Linked DNA regions of Homo sapiens: region 1 is linked to region 2. The links come from fine-mapping of genetic effects on gene expression. Tissue or cell type: subcutaneous fat. Region 2 holds a variant in brackets; the other region holds the start of a gene. All regions are shown on one strand. Distances are from middle to middle.

Region 1 (8,094 bases), 42 kb after region 2:
TGGTGCTTGCTCCAGCAGAGCCGTGGAGAGGTTGACAATGGGTGGAATGTGGCCCCTTCAGAACCCACACTTCACTGGTGCCCAGGCATGCCAGCCAAGCCCTCTGCTTCTGCAAGCCTGTTTCCCAGCAGTTGAGCTGTGCCAGGACAGCCAAGGACATTTCAGAGTCCCCAGGGCTCATAGCCAGGCTGTCACCGGGCATTGCTTATTTTCCCAGGGCCCAGGAGTCTTCAGGGATGGTGGGGGTTCTGGAGATGTTCCAAGGACTTTTCTTAACAGCTTGGTAAATTGAGGTCTGGAGAGAGCAAGGCACTTGACCAAGGTCTCACAAGGCCGCCTCCCTCATATCTGCCACTCCCCTCTGTTTCCGTGTCCTCTGCACAGACTCCTGGCCTTCTGCCTGGACGTTTGTAACAACCTCCCTCTTGTGGGCTCCCTAAGAGCTTTGTTTGTCCTCCATTATCGTAATCTTGCCATAATCTGCCAGATGCACACACTATTTGATGTGTCTACCTCCTGTCCCCTCCACTGACTGCCCGTGACAGAGTCTCCCCGACAGAGCTGTGCAGCATGAGGTTTAGGCCCCAGGCTCTGGAGCCAGTCTGAACTCTGTTTGGATGCCAGCTCTGCCCCTTCCTGGCCTGGTGACCTTGGGCATGATACCCTACTTTTCTGAGCTGCTGTCTTTGTGAAATGAAAACAGTAGCAATACTTAGTTGATAGGAATGTCAGGACAGTTAAATGGGATAACGTGTGAAATGCAGAGTACAACACCTGGTACCAAGTAAACTCTCAGAAATGGTCATCATTGTCCCAAAGGCCCATCAGTTGGTTGAACTGGAAAGTCGTGAGCATGGAGGAGTAGACCCAAGCTTGGACTGGGAGGCAGAGGATGTGGGCTCCAAGTTCATCTCAAACATTGTGTTCCTGTGTGCGTGTTGGGAAGCCACTTATCCTCTGGAAACCCCACTTTCCTTTTCTGAGAAAGGGGGAAGAAATCCCTGCTATACTTTAATAAAGTTGGCATGTGATACCGCAGCAATGCCTGTGAAAATGCTTTGCATCTGTGTAATGATTTAAAAATGGCACAGCGGTGGCTGTGGTGTGCTGATGGCGATGAGGGCATTGTAACCACAGTGGTGGGCAGCTGGCCGGGCTGGAGGCTGGTTCATCTGTGGAATGCTTAGTGCCCACACGGACTTCCCCATCCCTGCCTACCTGCTCCCGGCTGTCCACCAGCCTGCCTTCACATTAGCCCCGGCATTATATGCTAGAAAATGTGGGAGGTGCAAAGAGCTGATGGCATTTCCCCAGCCCTGGTGGGTTTTCTGTTATCTGTGGCTGATGCCATGGAATGTGGGGATTAAGAACCAGACAGATGCTGGTTCGAATCTCAGCTAAGCACTTCCCAACAGGGACCTTAAGCAAGTTGCTTAATCTCTGTGGACCTCAGGCTCCATATTTGTAAAATGAGGCCATGATCAAGTAGAGGCCAAGCATTTAACAAAGAGCCCAGAACATAATGGCATCAGGTGGTTGTATAATGTGTATTCTGCCTGGAACGTGGTCACTGACAACGTGGTGACTGACAGGTTATCGATGGCAGGAAGCTGGGGCCACTGTGCCCATTTCGGGGATTTGCTGCAGAGGTCGGTTATGCTCCCTACAGAATAACCCAGCTTAGATTTAGGAGGGTCTATGGAATCATATGGCATGATTCAATTTTTTAAATTAACTCGTTTTTTAAAATTTTATTTTTTTTAGAGATGGGGTCTTGCTGTATCTCCCAGGCTGCAGTGCCATAGTGCAGTTGTAGCTCACTGCGGCCTTGAATGCCCGGGCTTCCAGCAATCCTCCTACCTCAGCCTCCTGAATAGCTGGGACTACAGGCTCGTGTCACCATGCCTGGCTTCATGATTCTGTTTTATGTGACCAAACTGAGGCCGAGAAAGGAGTGGTACTTGCCTGAGGTCACAGGCAGGTTGTGTAAGAAGGCCGGGCCTAGGATGAGGCAAGTGAGGCATCTAAGTGCAGCGTCTCAGGAGGTGCCCGCTGTGTGCTTGCACATTGTGGAGAATAAGAACCTTTGTTTTTGAGAGAGGGTCTAGCTGTGTCGCACAGGTTGGAGTGCAGTGGTGCAATCTGGGCTTACTGTAGCCTCAACCTCCTGGGCTCAGGTGATCCTCGCACCTCAGCCCTCCCATATAACTGACTATAGGCACACGCCACTACGCTGTCTAATTTTTGTAATTTTTTTTTGTAGAGAAGGGGTTTTGCCATGTTGCCCAGGCTGGTGTTGAACTCCTGGTCTCAAACTCCTGGGTCAACCTGCCTTGAGCTCCCAAAGTGTTGGGATGACAGGCGTGAGCCACTGCACCTGGCAGTGAGCACCTTCTAAAAGGCTCCTCGCGGGCCTCACCTGAGCCTAGTCCTGGGTGAGTTCCTGATCTAGGACTGGAACCCTGGTCTCCTGGCCCCATGAACTGTTCTGGACCCCTGCGAGGTACTTTTTAGAGTCTCGCTGAGGCCTCCTATTCCTCTTTAAAAGGAGCCTCTGTGAAGTAGGTCACCCAGTGCTTTTTGCTCCACGTTTCTGTTCTCTAGCTGTTGTCTGTGTCCTAGAGAAAGCCGGGCCCACTTGCCCCCACCTCTCCCCACCTTCTGCCCCCTCCCCCTGCCAGCTGCGCCTCCATGTAAGTACTTTGAGTCCCTTAACACCCCAAGGCGTGTTGGTGGCCAGCTTTTGTCGTGATGACAAGCCCCAGCAAGTCTACAGGGACTGGCTGCTTTCATGTGGGCCCTCGGTGAAGCCTCCTTGGTCTCAGCAGGCCCTGTGTTGTACCCACCAGGCCTCTAGGAGATTAGGGGGCTTCTGTGGCTCCAGATGGCTCAAAGCTTTTCCCTTCCTCTGTGTTATCCCTAGCCCACCTGGCTTCCGTCCTCACTGGCCACGGGGCTTGGGGGATTTTCAGTCTCTCCAAGGCTCTGGCATCTTCCAGAGTGGGCTAGTCTTGGAGTGTCCATCTGAGCCATTCTTTCTGTCACCACTGCTGGGCCTGCCTGCTGGGCCTTAGGTGACTTCTTGAGAGGTGGCCAAAGCTGCTAATCCCTGGAAGGGGCTCCTAGGATTTCCCTGTGGCTGGCAGGACCCTTGGCCACCCACGTGGTGTGACATGAGGAGCCTGGAAAGCCAGCCCAACCTCCATCCTTAAGCCCCACGTATAAACATACCTTTTTTTTTTTTTTAACTGCAGCTCTCAGAGCCTGCAGTTCTACTGTTGTCAGGTTGCCTTGTGCTCTCCTTGGCATCCTCTAAGAAGGCAAATACCTTTTCAGCTGGGTGCTTTTAAGCATTTGCTGTCAAGAAGCAAGCCCTGGCCAGCCTGGCCCTTTTCCAGTGTTCTGTGTGACCGTGGCCAAGTTGCTTCTCTTCTCTGGGTCTCGTCTTTGTAAGACCCTTTTCAGCTCTAGCACTTTGAGGCTCCAGCATGGATTCTTACACCCTCCACACCTTTGCCGGTCACCTTTCTTCCTTCTCTGCAGGGTGGGGCACAGGGAAGGGCCTGGCAGCTGAGCTGGGTGGGGCCAGGGGCCAAAAGCCAGCATCATAGACACTTTTCCCTCCAGCTGGGCATACCAGTCCTTCCTCTTCTTCTCAGGACAGGTGGGGAAACTGAGGTCTGGAGGGGGAAGGGCCAGGGCTGGAACCAGGACCCAGTTATCCTTATTGCCAGTGAGTGCTCCTCCTGCTGTTGGCTGCTACCTCTCTTGAGAGGGTCAGAAGACCCACTAGCATGAGGGTCAGGGACATGCTTTTTCCTTTCCCGTGGAAGGCTCCTCCAGGCAGGGCTTGGGTGAGGCAGGCGAGGTGCCAGTGGTTCCCTGGGCACGGGGCAGAATCGGAGGAGGACATCCTCTTTCTGAGGTTAAGGAGGTAGGGGCTGGAGGCCTTGACAAGGGAGGTGGCATGAAGGGGCGTGGAGGTTTCTAGGAACGTGGTTGGTGGCGCAGGGTGCTCTAGGGCCACCTCCCTCCCTTGCTTCTGCCTTCCCTTTCTCCTGGGGAGGGGACTGGGCCAACAGTAATGCCATTTTTCCTGGCCCTGGGATTAGGTGCAGCCGTGTTAAGGAGAGGACATTCGAGAGGGCGTGGCGAAGTGAAGAGGAACCTCACGCCACTGCCTGGAGCTCCGGTGGGTCTGGGTCTGGTCATTGTCTCGCTGGCTCCTGTCCACTCTGACCACTGTCCCTGGCCCCCTGCCCTGTCCAGTCCTTCCAGGTCCATCTGAGTGTGTGTGTGTGTGTGTGTGTGTGTGTGTCCCCAGGAGGGATCTGGGGGTACAGGCTGGCACTTGAGCCTGGCACTGGGTCCTGCCTTCATTCCAGATCAGAAGCAGCTCCCGGAACTGCCCCAGGGAGAGGTCTAGGCTGACCTGGCAGATTCCTGATGGAGGAGAAGGAGGAGGAGGCTGAGGGATGGGAAGGAAGGGCTCAGTTTCTCCTGTGGCTTCTCCAGACAGCTAGGCATGTCCACAAATCCACCTGAAGCCAGCAGGTCCAAGAGTTTAAAGATTTATTTCAGGGCCACGGGGGAAGCTGAAATGGTGAGATCCCAGGGCTCTCAGATGTTGTGTTTGTGGCTTTGGTCCTGTCTAGACTGTGAGAGCCATGGCTTGTCAAAGCCAGAGGGGCCCCTAGAGAATTTCCATGTTCTTAACTTGGCTTTTGATGGGGGCCAGTCACAACCACTCTGAATTTGTGTGTCTGGGGAGAGAATCTGCTAATAGCCATCATTAGATTCTCAAAGGGTTCTATAACCCCCAGAAGGTCACAGACTTCTCCTCTAGTCCATACCCCTCACTGCAGTTGCAGAAACTGAGGCTCAGAGAAGGGAAGGGACTTGCCCAGAGACTCACAGGCGGCAATGGAGGCTGTGGCACCCCCTGCCTCTGTCTTCCTGCCAGCATTCTGCCTGACCTTACAAGCTGGGGAAGCTTGGCTCATTCAGGGGACAATGACCTCTCATCCCCTGATGAGAGGAAGGGGATGACTGGGAGGGAAGGACTGGGAGGCTGTTGTGGTTTCCAGGCCCGCATGGATTTTGGCTTCTGCATCCTTGAGATGGAGGCCCCTGAGTCTGCCTGTGCCTTGGAATCTCTCAGGGTGTATCTGAGGCCTGGAGTCGGGCATGCGGGAGGGTGGGGGCTAGTGGTGACCCACATTTCCCAGCTCCTCTGCAGGGGAGGCAGATAGGGGAGAAGCTCAGGGTGTGATAAAATTGTTTTTACTTCACTGGGCATAAATGACAAATAAATGAAGTGAGGGTTGGGAAGTGCTTGGTAGAGCGCCTGGCACATGCCAGGCCGTGAGGCGAGGTGCTCACCATTGTCCTTTGCGGTGCCCTGCTAGCTGAGATCTCCTGCTTCTGACCCTCGCTCCTGCCTCTTCCTTAGCATGAGGCCTCTGCCTGGGGCAGGAGGTGGCCCCCCTTTCTTTATTTTTTTTGAGATGGAGTTTCGCTCAGGCTAGAGTGCAATGGCGCCATCTCGGCTCACTGTAATCTCCGCCTCCCAGGTTCAAGCGATTCTCCTGCCTCAGCCTCTGGAGTTGCTGGGATTACAGGCATGTGCCACACACCTGGCTAATTTTGTATTGTTAGTAGAGATGGGGTTTCACCGTGTTAGCCAGGATGGTCTCGATCTCAGGACCTTGTGATCTACCCGCCTCAGCCTCCCAAAGTGCTGGGATTACAGGCAGGGGCCACTGCCCCGAGCCGCCATCCCCCTTTCTTATATTGGGGTGTCTGATGGGGGCGTGAGGACCCTCTGGCTGAAGTCCTGCCTTGCTGGGTTCCATGGTGCACCTCTCTGCAGTGCAGGCTTTCCCAGGAGGCTGAAGCTCAGCTAGAGAAGCTGGGTCAGCAGCCCTGGGCCTGGTCACCTCCAGGAAGCCTCTCTCCTGGGCTGCAGACCTGGCTTGGGAGTGGTGTGGAAAGTAGGACTGCAGAAGGGTAACGAACAGGGGCTGTGGGGTGGGCTGGGAGGGGCATCCTAGCTCCACCTCTGCCCAGCTGTGTGACTTCGAGCGGTTGCTTACCCTCTCTGAGCCTCCATTTCCTTGTCTGTAAAGTGCTCATAGCAGTGACACCTCTTTCAGGGTGTTAGGATTGAGCGTGATGGAGCAGGTAAGGCTCCTGGCACAGCCCCACATGTTCGCAGGAGCTTAACGTTGGCCGCCAGTAAGGGAGGTTATGATATGTGTTGGGATATGCTGCTTTGTTCCTTTTGAGTGTCTGTGATCTGAGCCTAAGGAAAAAATAGTTCTGGATGGATTTGACTCTGTCATAGGCAGATTTGGGGATAGGGTGGGCAGAGAGCCCCATTTTGGGAAGATTTGTGGCCACTGCATAACATTCTGTGTGATGGACCTGACAGCCTTGGTGTGCGTGAAGAGCCTCAGTGGGACTGTCAGGACTGTCCCGTCCTTGGGACGGGAGGGTGGCAGGTGACCTGCCGTGTTCCCCACACAGCCCCACCCCCAGGCTGTCTGGTATGTTTGCTCGGTAAGCCCTTTTTTTCAGAGCTGGTACAAAGGTAAACTCGCAACTCAGGCCCTGTTGGAAGAAGGACACATTCTCAACAAGTGAGGTCTAAGTTCCTGAGGTTTTCTGTTGGGCCTTCCCTGCCAGGGAACCCAGAACAGATTCACAAGTTGAGAACCAGGGAGTGAACCAGTAGTGCTTAATGCTTTGTTTCCTTGTTGATTGACGGATGATCTGTGAGCTACTTCCAAGAAAGATCACTAGAGGCTGCTTGTGATACTAAAACACATATAAAATGGATGAAAACAAACACAGACAGAAAACTATTGAAAAGGAATGGAGAAAGGGATGTGCAGGGCATCTGGCAAATGTTAGCTGTCTTAGGTGATCACAGAGGGGCTGCGGAGATGGGGGATGAGGGGCCCAGGCTCTGGAGCCCAGCAGCTGTGTGCTGAAGTTCCCATTCACCCCCTTATTAGCTCTGTGGGCTGCAGCAAGTGACTGGCCTCTTTGGACCTCAGTTTCTCATCCGTATAATGGGGGGAATCTAGGTCATGGTGCTGTGGTAAGGTTGAAATAATGGCATGTAACGCAGACATGGCATGTCTCATAAATGGAAGTTAATGTTATTAATGCATTTAGCTTGGAGATGCCGCGTAGCAGATTCACAGAGGGGAAGGTAATTGGCAAGGGCACAAGGCTCTTGAGTACCTGCTGTGGGTAGGAGATGGCTTGTGCCTTGGAAAGCTTTCAGTGAAGTTGGGAGCCCCATGTTCTAGTTGCAAGAACAACTGATACCTGGTGTTGCGTGGTGGGATGTGGAGCAGGGGAGCTCAATCAGGACTTTAGAAATCCAGAGCAGGCTTGTTCACCTCCCTGCTGAGGCTGGCATTGGAGGAGGAGGGACAGGGTTTTAATGGACAAGAAAATGGACCAAGGTAAATGAGAGTGGGGCACACCAGACGGCACAAGCCAGGAGGTCCTTTCCTCTCTCTGGGTCTCAGTGTCCCCAGGGGCTTACTGCAGGGTAGACTGTGCTCTCTGTGGCCCTGCGACTCTGAGCCAGACCTCCAACAGTCTCTTTCCCGGTGGTGGTGGTCCTGGACTCTGGGGTGACTGACAGGCGGCAGCTTGGCTCCTGGCCAGGCAGCACTGTGGGGGTGATGGGGGATGGGGCATGTAGCAGATTCCAGCAGAGGAAGGGATTTGCTTCTGGTCTCGGCCTCCCAGGGATGTAATCACGCTGGAGAAACTCCCGCACAGCTGGGAAGCAAATGTGGAGGATTTTCCTTGCTGAGCTGGATGTGGTGGGTGGGGCAGGCTGTGGTAGGGTGGCTGGTGGAGCTGGGAAGCTGTGGGGTGTGGCTGGGTGGGGGTGATGATGTGACTGTGCTGGGGGTGTGACTGGCTGGGAGGGGCTGGATCAGCTATGGGGAGTGGCCCTGGGTGCATGTGGGGCTACCTGTTCCCCAGGCCTGCAGCCACTGCTACGCCCTCCCCTGCTCAGGTCCCTGCCCAAGTCCAGGTACCCACCCATTCACATCCTTCTGAGGT
Region 2 (8,101 bases):
ACATTCGGGGAACACCTGTGTTCATCTGGGTTGCTGAGGGAGAGACATAAGGGTGAGAGAATGTTGTTAGGATGTTGGTGTCCATTCATTCATTCATTCAGTCATTCATTGTTTTATAAATAATAATTATTATTATTTTATTTATTTTTTTGAGACAGAGTCTCTCTCTACCCCCTAGGCTGGAGTCCAGTGGTGCAATCTTGGCTCACTGCAACCTCCAACTCCCAGGTTCAAGCGATTCTCCTGCTTCAGCCTCCCGAGTAGCTGGGACTGCAGGCGCCTGCCACTACTGGCTAATTTTTGTATTTTTATTAGAGGCGGGGTTTCACCATGTTGGCCAGGCTGGTCTCGAACTCCTGACCTCAAATGATCCACCCACCTCGGCCTCCCAAAGTGCTAGGATTACAGGTGTGAGCCACCACACCTGGCCACAAATAATTATTGAACACATACTGTGAGCCAAGCACTGGGTTGGGCGCTGAGGATTCGGCGCTGAATAGGACAGATGTGGGCCATGCCTGCCCAAGTCAACATCCTAGCAGGGAAGATGGACAGTAAACAGTAAACTAACAGATAGACATAAGGTCACAGAGTGTGGTGCAGACTATAAAGGGAATAAATTGCAGACAGGATGGAGAGCTATGTGGGTGGCTACTTTAGGCTGGGGCACCAGGGAGGTGACATTTCAGCAGAGACCTGAATCATAAGGACTAAGTTATGAGGGAAGATTGGGAAAGGGTTCCTGACAGGAAGAACAGTCTTTGCAAAAGCCCTGAGCTTAGCATGAGGATGTGAAAGGAGGATAAAGTGGCCAGGAGTAAGGAGGAGAACCAGAGGGAGAAGGGAGATGAGGTGGGGACAGGGCTGGCACCACGAGCCTGTGACCTCTACAGTTGCACAGGGCCCATGCTTGGTTAATGCACTGTGGTTGCTGTCCTGAAATTCTTTTTTTTTTTTTTTTTTTTTTTTTTGAGACGGAGTCTCGCTGTGTCTCCCAGGCTGGTGAGTGCAGTGGCGTTTTCTCTGCTCACTGCAACCTCCGCCTCCCAGGTTTGAGCGATTCTCCTGCTTCAGGCTTCTGAGTAGCTGGGACTGCAGGCCCATACCACCATGCCCAGCTAAGTTTTGTATTTTTAGTAGAGATGGAGTTTCAGTATGTTGGCCAGGCTGGTCTTGAACTCCAGACCTCAGGTGATCTGCCTGCCTTGGCCTCCCAAAGTGCTGGGATTACAGGTGTGAGCCACTGCACCAGGCCCTGAAATTCTTAATAGTGGTTGAACAAAGGCTTCTGCATTTTTATTTTGCACTTGGGCCCTGCAAATTATGTAGCTCGCCGTGGTTGGGAGGTTGGCAAAATAACTGGGTGTCTGTGAGTAGAGATGTGAAGGCTTCTTGGCTGGTGTTGAGTGAATGAATGAATCTGCTTTTGCAGAGTTCATCTGTGAGGCTGTCAGAGGGCCACCTTTGCCTAGACCAGGGGCTGCTGCTGTGCAGAGAGGGGTCACATTCAGACATGGCCCCAGAGTGCCCCCAAATTCTGCAGTATCTGTTAGATTCTTCCGGGCCCACTGCCTGCAGGGTTCCCAGGGCTGTGTGCACCAGGTCTGAAGCAGCATCATGAAAAGGTGGGTAAAGTCAGGCTTACCCCACCCCCTGCATTGGCAAACAATAACTCCTCCACCCGAGGTAGAATCTTGCCTGTGAAGCCTCAGACTTTAGAGCCAGACAAACTTGAGTTCAAATCTGGCTTTCACATTCTGATTAGTGGATGTGACTAAGTGTACTTTATGCAGGTGATTTGCTTCTCTGAGCCTCAGTTAGTTCCCTCATCTGTAAAATAGGGATCACTACTTCTTAGAGTTGTTGAGAGGATTAAACGAGGTAATAAGAGGAAAGCTTTTGGCACAGTCAGAACTTAGAAAATATTTGCAATAATAATAGTATTATGGCTGGGCACAGTGGCTCACACTTGTAATCCCAGCACTTTGGGAGGCCGAGGCGGGTGAATCACCTGAGGTCAGGAGTTCGAGACCAGCCTGGCCAACATGATGAAACCCCGTCTCTACTAAAAATACAAAAATTAGCCAGGCGTGGCGGCAGGATTAGTCGAGATCGCGCCACTGCACTCCAGCCTGGGCAATAGTGCAAGACTCCACAAAAAAAAAAAGTATTATTATACAATCTTTGCAGAATTGGGTAAACATTTGCTTTTGCCCCTAAATGTCTACATAGTCATGAACAGGTCACTAAATCCCCCTGAGCCTGTTTCCTCTTCTGTTCAATTGGGATGATAACAAGCTAACCCATCTCTAACCGGGGTGGTTGGGGATGAACCAACAGGATCACTGGATCACCGTGGAGCTTCTTTGTAAATTGATGTGCAGGTGTGGGCCGCTTGCACATTCCAGACCCACCCCTATCTCTCCCATCTCAGGGCAGGCTTTCTCCAAATCTGCCCGCCCGGAAGGAAAAGCACCCTTCAGTTCTTGGCAGTCTCTGGATTCCCAGCCCTGAGTTGCTGCTCTCACACTGGGAAGTCGGCCTGGGAGTGAACATTAAGTTCAAGGTCCCTGGTTAGGCAAAAAAGAGGCTGATCCAGAAGTTGGAGTAGGGGAGGGGGAGGATGAGCTGAGTGAGGACAAAGGAGCTGGAGCCAAAATCCCTGTTGGCCTTGCTTCCTGCCTCACTCTGAGGCAGGAAGCAACCAGAAAGCTGCAGAGAATTAGTCTCTGAAAAAGGACCTGAGCAACAGTCTCGGGCTGGGCAGAGCCCCCACTTCATCTCCCACATACGCTCCCCAAGGCTGATTTGCAGGAGCCTCTAAGACCGCTGGGAAGCCCTAAGCAGCACCAACCTGAGAAAGGGAGTCTCACCCCATAGGAGTCCTTGGCCGAGAAAGCGGGAAGCCGGGAAGGGGAGGCTAAAAACCCCCAGAGCTGGGTGCGGTGGCTCACGCCTGTAATCCCGGCACTTTGGGAGGCCAAGGCTGGTGAATCTCTTGAGGTCAAGAGTTCAAGACCAGCCTGGCCAACATGGTGAAACCCTGTCTTTACTAAAAATTACAAAAATTAGCCAGCCGTGGTGATGGGTGCCTGTAATCCAAGCTACTCGGGGGGCTGAGGCAGGAGAATCGCTTGAACCCAGGAGGCGGAGGTTGCAGTGAGCCGAGATCATGCCACTGCACTCCAGCCTTGGCAACAGGGCAAGACTCCATCTTAAATAGAATAAAAATAAAAATAAAATAAAAGCCCCAGGAGCCATCCCAGAGCAAGGAACAGGGGCTCTGGGGTCAGGCTGCTTGAGTCCAAGTCTAGGCTCTGCCACCAACTAGCAGTGTGACCTCAGGGTTCTGTGGCCTCTCCATGCCTCAGTGTTCCTAATCTGGAGCCCGGGGATAATAGTCATAGCTCCTGATAGTGCTGCTGGGAAAACCGAGTGCTCTGCAGTTCCCAGCAAAGCCTGATAGGTAGTGAGTGCTTTAGAAAGGTTAGTTATTATTATATATTCTTGTAAAAATGAGGCCACCCAGCAAGTTCTGTCAGAGTCTGCTGTGTCTCCTGATAGATGGGTTCAAAGCCTTCCCTTATATTTTGGGCAGGCAGCATTCATTTATTCATTTGTTTATTCAATAAATATTTATGGAGCATATTTATGGCAGCAAAGAGTGGCAGATGGGGGGCCCTAGGGCCTGATTGCTTCCCAGAGGGGCATTTGAGTGAGAACTAGCATTTATTCAGCAACAATAGGCTTAGCTTATACACACTCAGATTCTTACCAGAAATGGGCATTGCCCAGGTAGAGGAGGGAGCCCAGGTGGAGCCACGGACACGGGGCCACATAGCCACTCAGTAGCAGCCCTAGAGACTTGAATCCAGGCCATCTCACTCCAAAGCTTGTGCTTTTTCAAATCTAGATTCCAGGCCTGCCTTCCTGCTGTGCCTCCCATCTCCCTCCCCAAACCAGACTTTGGCGGAGCCAGATCCCTAGAGGCCAAAGGCCAGGTTGTTTTCTGTTGCCCACTGTGGCAGGATCTCTGTCATTTC[C/T]TTCCCAGTTCTCCTAACCATGCGGAACAACCTTGGGGCCTTCCTCCGAGGGGAAACCCAGCCTGGAAGCATCCCGTGGAAAATGTGGCTGTCAGTGACCTCTGATGTTTGTCTCTTCGGCTGCCGAGGGTCTGGGTGCCTGGGAGTGCAGCAAGGTGGGGGGCTTCCTCAATAGGTGATGCCTATGACTCTCAGGAGTTTAGACTTGGCCTCCCTCTGGCTCTGTAGCCTGGGACAAGTCATAGCCCCTCTCTGGGCCTCAGTTTCCCCATCTGTAAAAATGGGAATAGGCCAGGCATGGTGGTTCATGTCTATAATCCCAACACTTTGGAAGGCTGAGATAGGAGCATTGCTGAAGCCCAGGAGTTCAAGACCAGCCTGGGCAACATAGTGAGACCCTGTCTCTACAAAAATTTTCAAAAATTGCTGGGTATGGTGGCTTATGTCTATAGTCTCAATTACTTGGGAGGCTGAGGTGGGAGGATTGCTTGAGCGCAGGAGGTCGAGGCTGCAGTGAGCTATGATGGCACCACTGTACTCCAGTCTAGGTGGCAGAGTAAGACCGTGTCTAAAAAAAAAGAAAAAAAGGAAGAGGCATGGCATGGAGTTGAGGAACAGTAGCGAAGTTCTCACACTGGCCCTCTGGCTGGGAGTTTACGTGCTGATGTCAAGTCCTCCTGCCTTCTTTTCCTCCTGGGTGCTTGTGAGGTTCAAATGGGACTGTGGCTACAAAAGGGCTTTGGAGTGGAATCCAGAGCTGGAGAGCAGAGCAGATGTAGAAGGAAGCTGATTATTTTTGATTGAGACCCTCAGCACTTAGCTCCGCCTTCATCACATCTCACCCAGGCTGCTGCCTGTGGCCAAGTACCCATTCCCCAGACCCTCTGCAGGACCCATGGTTCCGGGTCAAGGGTGAGCCTGGGGCAAGGTTCTAACCAGGAGGTTTCTGAGCCTGACATGAGCATCCTGCTATGGTGTGAATGTTTGTGTGCCTCCTAAATCCATGTTAAAATCCTAACTCCCAAGGTGATGATACTAAAAGGTGAGGTCTTTGGGAGGTGATTAGGTCACAAGGGCAGAGCCCTCATAAGTGGGATTAGTGCTCGTATAGAATAGGCCCAAGGGAACTCATTCACCCCTTCCACCATGTGAGGATGCAGTGAGAGGGTGCCATCTACAAATGGGGAAGCCAGCCCTCACCAGACACTGAATCTGCCATAGCCTTGATCTCAGACTTCCCAGCCTTTAGAATGGTGAGAAACAGGCTGGGTGCAGTGGCTTACACTTGTAATCCCAGCACTTTGGGAGGCTGAGGCGGGCAGATCACTTGAGGTCAGGAGTTCGAGACCAGCCTGACCAACATGGTGAAACCCCATCTCTACTAAAAATACAAAAATTAGCCAGGCATGGTGGCGGGTGCCTGTAATCCCAGCTACTCAGGAGGCTGAGACAGGAGAATCGCGTGAACCCGGGAGGCAGAAGTTGCAGCGAGCCAAGATCATGCCATTGCATTCCAGCCTGGGCCACAGATCAAGACTCCGTCTCAAAAAAAAAAAAAAAAAAAAAAAATTTAGCTAGGTGTGGTAATGCACACCTTTAATCCCAGCTACTCGGGAGGCTGAGGCACAAGAATCGCTTGAACCCAGGAGGTGGAGGTTGTAGTGAGCCGAGATTGCACCACTGCACTCCAGCCTGGGCGACAGAGCAAGACTCTGTCTCAAAAGCAGAAGAAAAGAAAAAAAATAGAATGGTGAGAAATAATTTATGTTGTTTAAAAACCACCCAGTCTATTTTGTTATAGCAGCCCAAACCATAAGACACGAAGACATATCCCAAAGCTGAAAAGTCACCCACCTGGACACAATAGCTATGGGGGGGCCCTCCTGCAGCCTCCCTGACGTCCACCATGCTGGGTTTGTGCCTCGACTTCCTCACAAGTGGTGATGGGAGAGGGAGTTTGGGAGTAGGAAGAGAAGCCTGTGGCTACCCAGGGGACATTCCTTCTGGCAGAGCATGACATTCACCTTGTGCCTAATTTGGGAAACCCCTTCTGTTCTTGGGTCTCAGTTTCCCCATCTGCACTGTGAAAGGCGCCATCACACGCCCTCAGAGAGCCCTTCTGGCTCTCCAAGCCCCAGACCGCGGGCCTCTGACTTCTGCCCTCCCCAGGCTCCTGAGGGATCCAGCCTTCAGCAAATGGAGATCAGTTCCATCCTCAGGAGATTCCATCTGGGATTTTGACTCCCCTGCTCCATCTGCCACTGCTGCCCCCAGATGCCCCAGAGTGGACAGAAACCAAGGGAAGGAGGCAGGGGCACACCCCCTTCCCAGGAGGACTGGAAGGCAGGACCCTCACTTCCAGGCACACATGGATGGAGAGGTGCCATGCTGGAGGGATGGTAGGAGAGGTAGTTCTGCAAGGAGCATGCCCATCCCCTATGCCACAGGCCGGCCAGATGGTGGGGGCAGCCAAGGAGGGCTCCTTGCTCCCGCCCCACCCCTCAGGCTGTACAGGGATCTGGATTTCTTTCCATACAAAACATGTGTGGGTAGAAGCCTTCAAATGCAGATTTGGGGCTCATGAAACATTTTATTATTTTTAAATTTTTTTGTTTATTTTTACTTTAAGTTCTGGGATACATGTGTAGAACATGTATACCTATGTAACCTGCTTTGTTACATAGGTATACGTGTGCCATGGTGGTTTGCTGCACCTATCAACCTGTCACCTAGGTTTTAAGCCCCACATGCATTAGCAATTTGTCCTGATGCTCTCCCTCCCCCGACCTCCCAAACCCCACCTACAGGTCCCAGTGTGTGTTTTTCCCCTCTCTGGGTCCATGTATTCTCATTGTTCAACTCGCACTTATGAGTGAGAACATGTGGTGTTTGGTTTTCTGTTCCTGTATTAGTTTGCTGAGGATGATGGCTTCCAGCTTCATCCATGTTCCTGCAAAGGACATGATCTCATAACGCTTTTACACTGTTGGTGGGAATGTAAATTAGTTCAACCATTGTGGAAGACAGGAATCATCCTCAAGGATCTAGAACCAGAAATACCGTTTGACCCAGCAATCCCATTACTGGGCATATACCCAAAGGAATATAAATGATTCTATTATAGGCCAGGCGCGATGGCTCACACCTGTAATCCCAGCACTTTGGGAGGCCGAGGCAGGCGGATCACCTGAGGTCAGGAGTTTAAGACTGGCCTGATCAACATGGTGAAACCCTGTCTCTAATGAAAATACAAAAATTAGCCAGGCCTGGTGGTGTGCACCTGTAATCTCAGCTACTCGGGAGGCTGAGGAAGAAGAATCACTTGAACCCAGGAAGCGGATGTTGCAGTGAGCCGAGATAGCACCATTGCACTCCAGCCTGGGTGACAGAAACTCCATCTCAAAAAAAAAAAAAATTCTTTTAATCGTTCTATTTTAAAGATACATGCACATGTATGTTTATTGCAGCACTATTCACAATAACAAAGACATGGAACCAACCCAAATGCCCAACGCCGATAGACTGAATAAAGACAATGTGGTTCATGAAACATTTTAATCTGGTGGAAGCACAGTTATAGCATTTCAGAACCTTGGTATGCTGTGGAATTCGAGAATCTCAGAGGCATAGCATCCTAGAATTTTACAAAAGTGAGTCATAGGATTTAAGGTTTCTAAACTATGCTGTCCAGCACTGCAGCCGCTAGCCACATGTGGTCATAGAGCACTGAGAATGTGACTAGTCCAAGTTGAGATGTGCTTTAAGTAGAATACACAGTGGATTTGGAAGACTCAGCACAAAAGAAAGAATTTAAACATCTCATTAATCATTTCGTTATATTAATTACATGTCAAAATGATATTTTGGGTATGTTGGTTTAATACAATATATTTCTTATTTTTAAAATTTTATGTATGTATGTATGTATGTATTTATTTATTGAGATGGGATCTCGCTCTGTCGCCCAGGAATGCAGTGGCACAATCTTGGCTTATTGTAGCCTTGACCTCTGGTTCTCAAGCAATCCTCCCACCTCAGTCTCCTGAGTAGCTGAGACC

Direction of the effects. Alleles are on the strand shown, and positions count from the first base shown. SD is a standard deviation of normalised expression in the study named.
In carriers of allele C in region 2, the expression in subcutaneous fat of the gene that starts at base 4,097 in region 1 tends to be higher than with T alone (moderate effect, 0.53 SD a copy in GTEx).

The links. PIP is the estimated chance that this variant, and not a neighbour inherited with it, causes the effect.
Region 1: NDST1 starts here. The variant in region 2 is fine-mapped to the expression of NDST1 in subcutaneous fat (GTEx, PIP 0.91).

What each region holds. Positions count from the first base shown.
Region 1 is chr5:150,504,035-150,512,128 of GRCh38, forward strand. NDST1 (N-deacetylase and N-sulfotransferase 1) reads left to right here and starts at 4,097. Exons shown (of 15, transcript NM_001543.5): 1 at 4,097-4,192. RefSeq lists enhancers at 6,081-6,654, 7,956-8,094 and a silencer at 7,573-7,867.
Region 2 is chr5:150,462,125-150,470,225 of GRCh38, forward strand. No RefSeq gene overlaps it. Among named protein-coding and RNA genes, the nearest start is that of RPS14, 16 kb to the left of the region's middle. RefSeq lists an enhancer at 2,050-2,775. The variant C/T (reference allele first, on the strand shown) is at 4,044.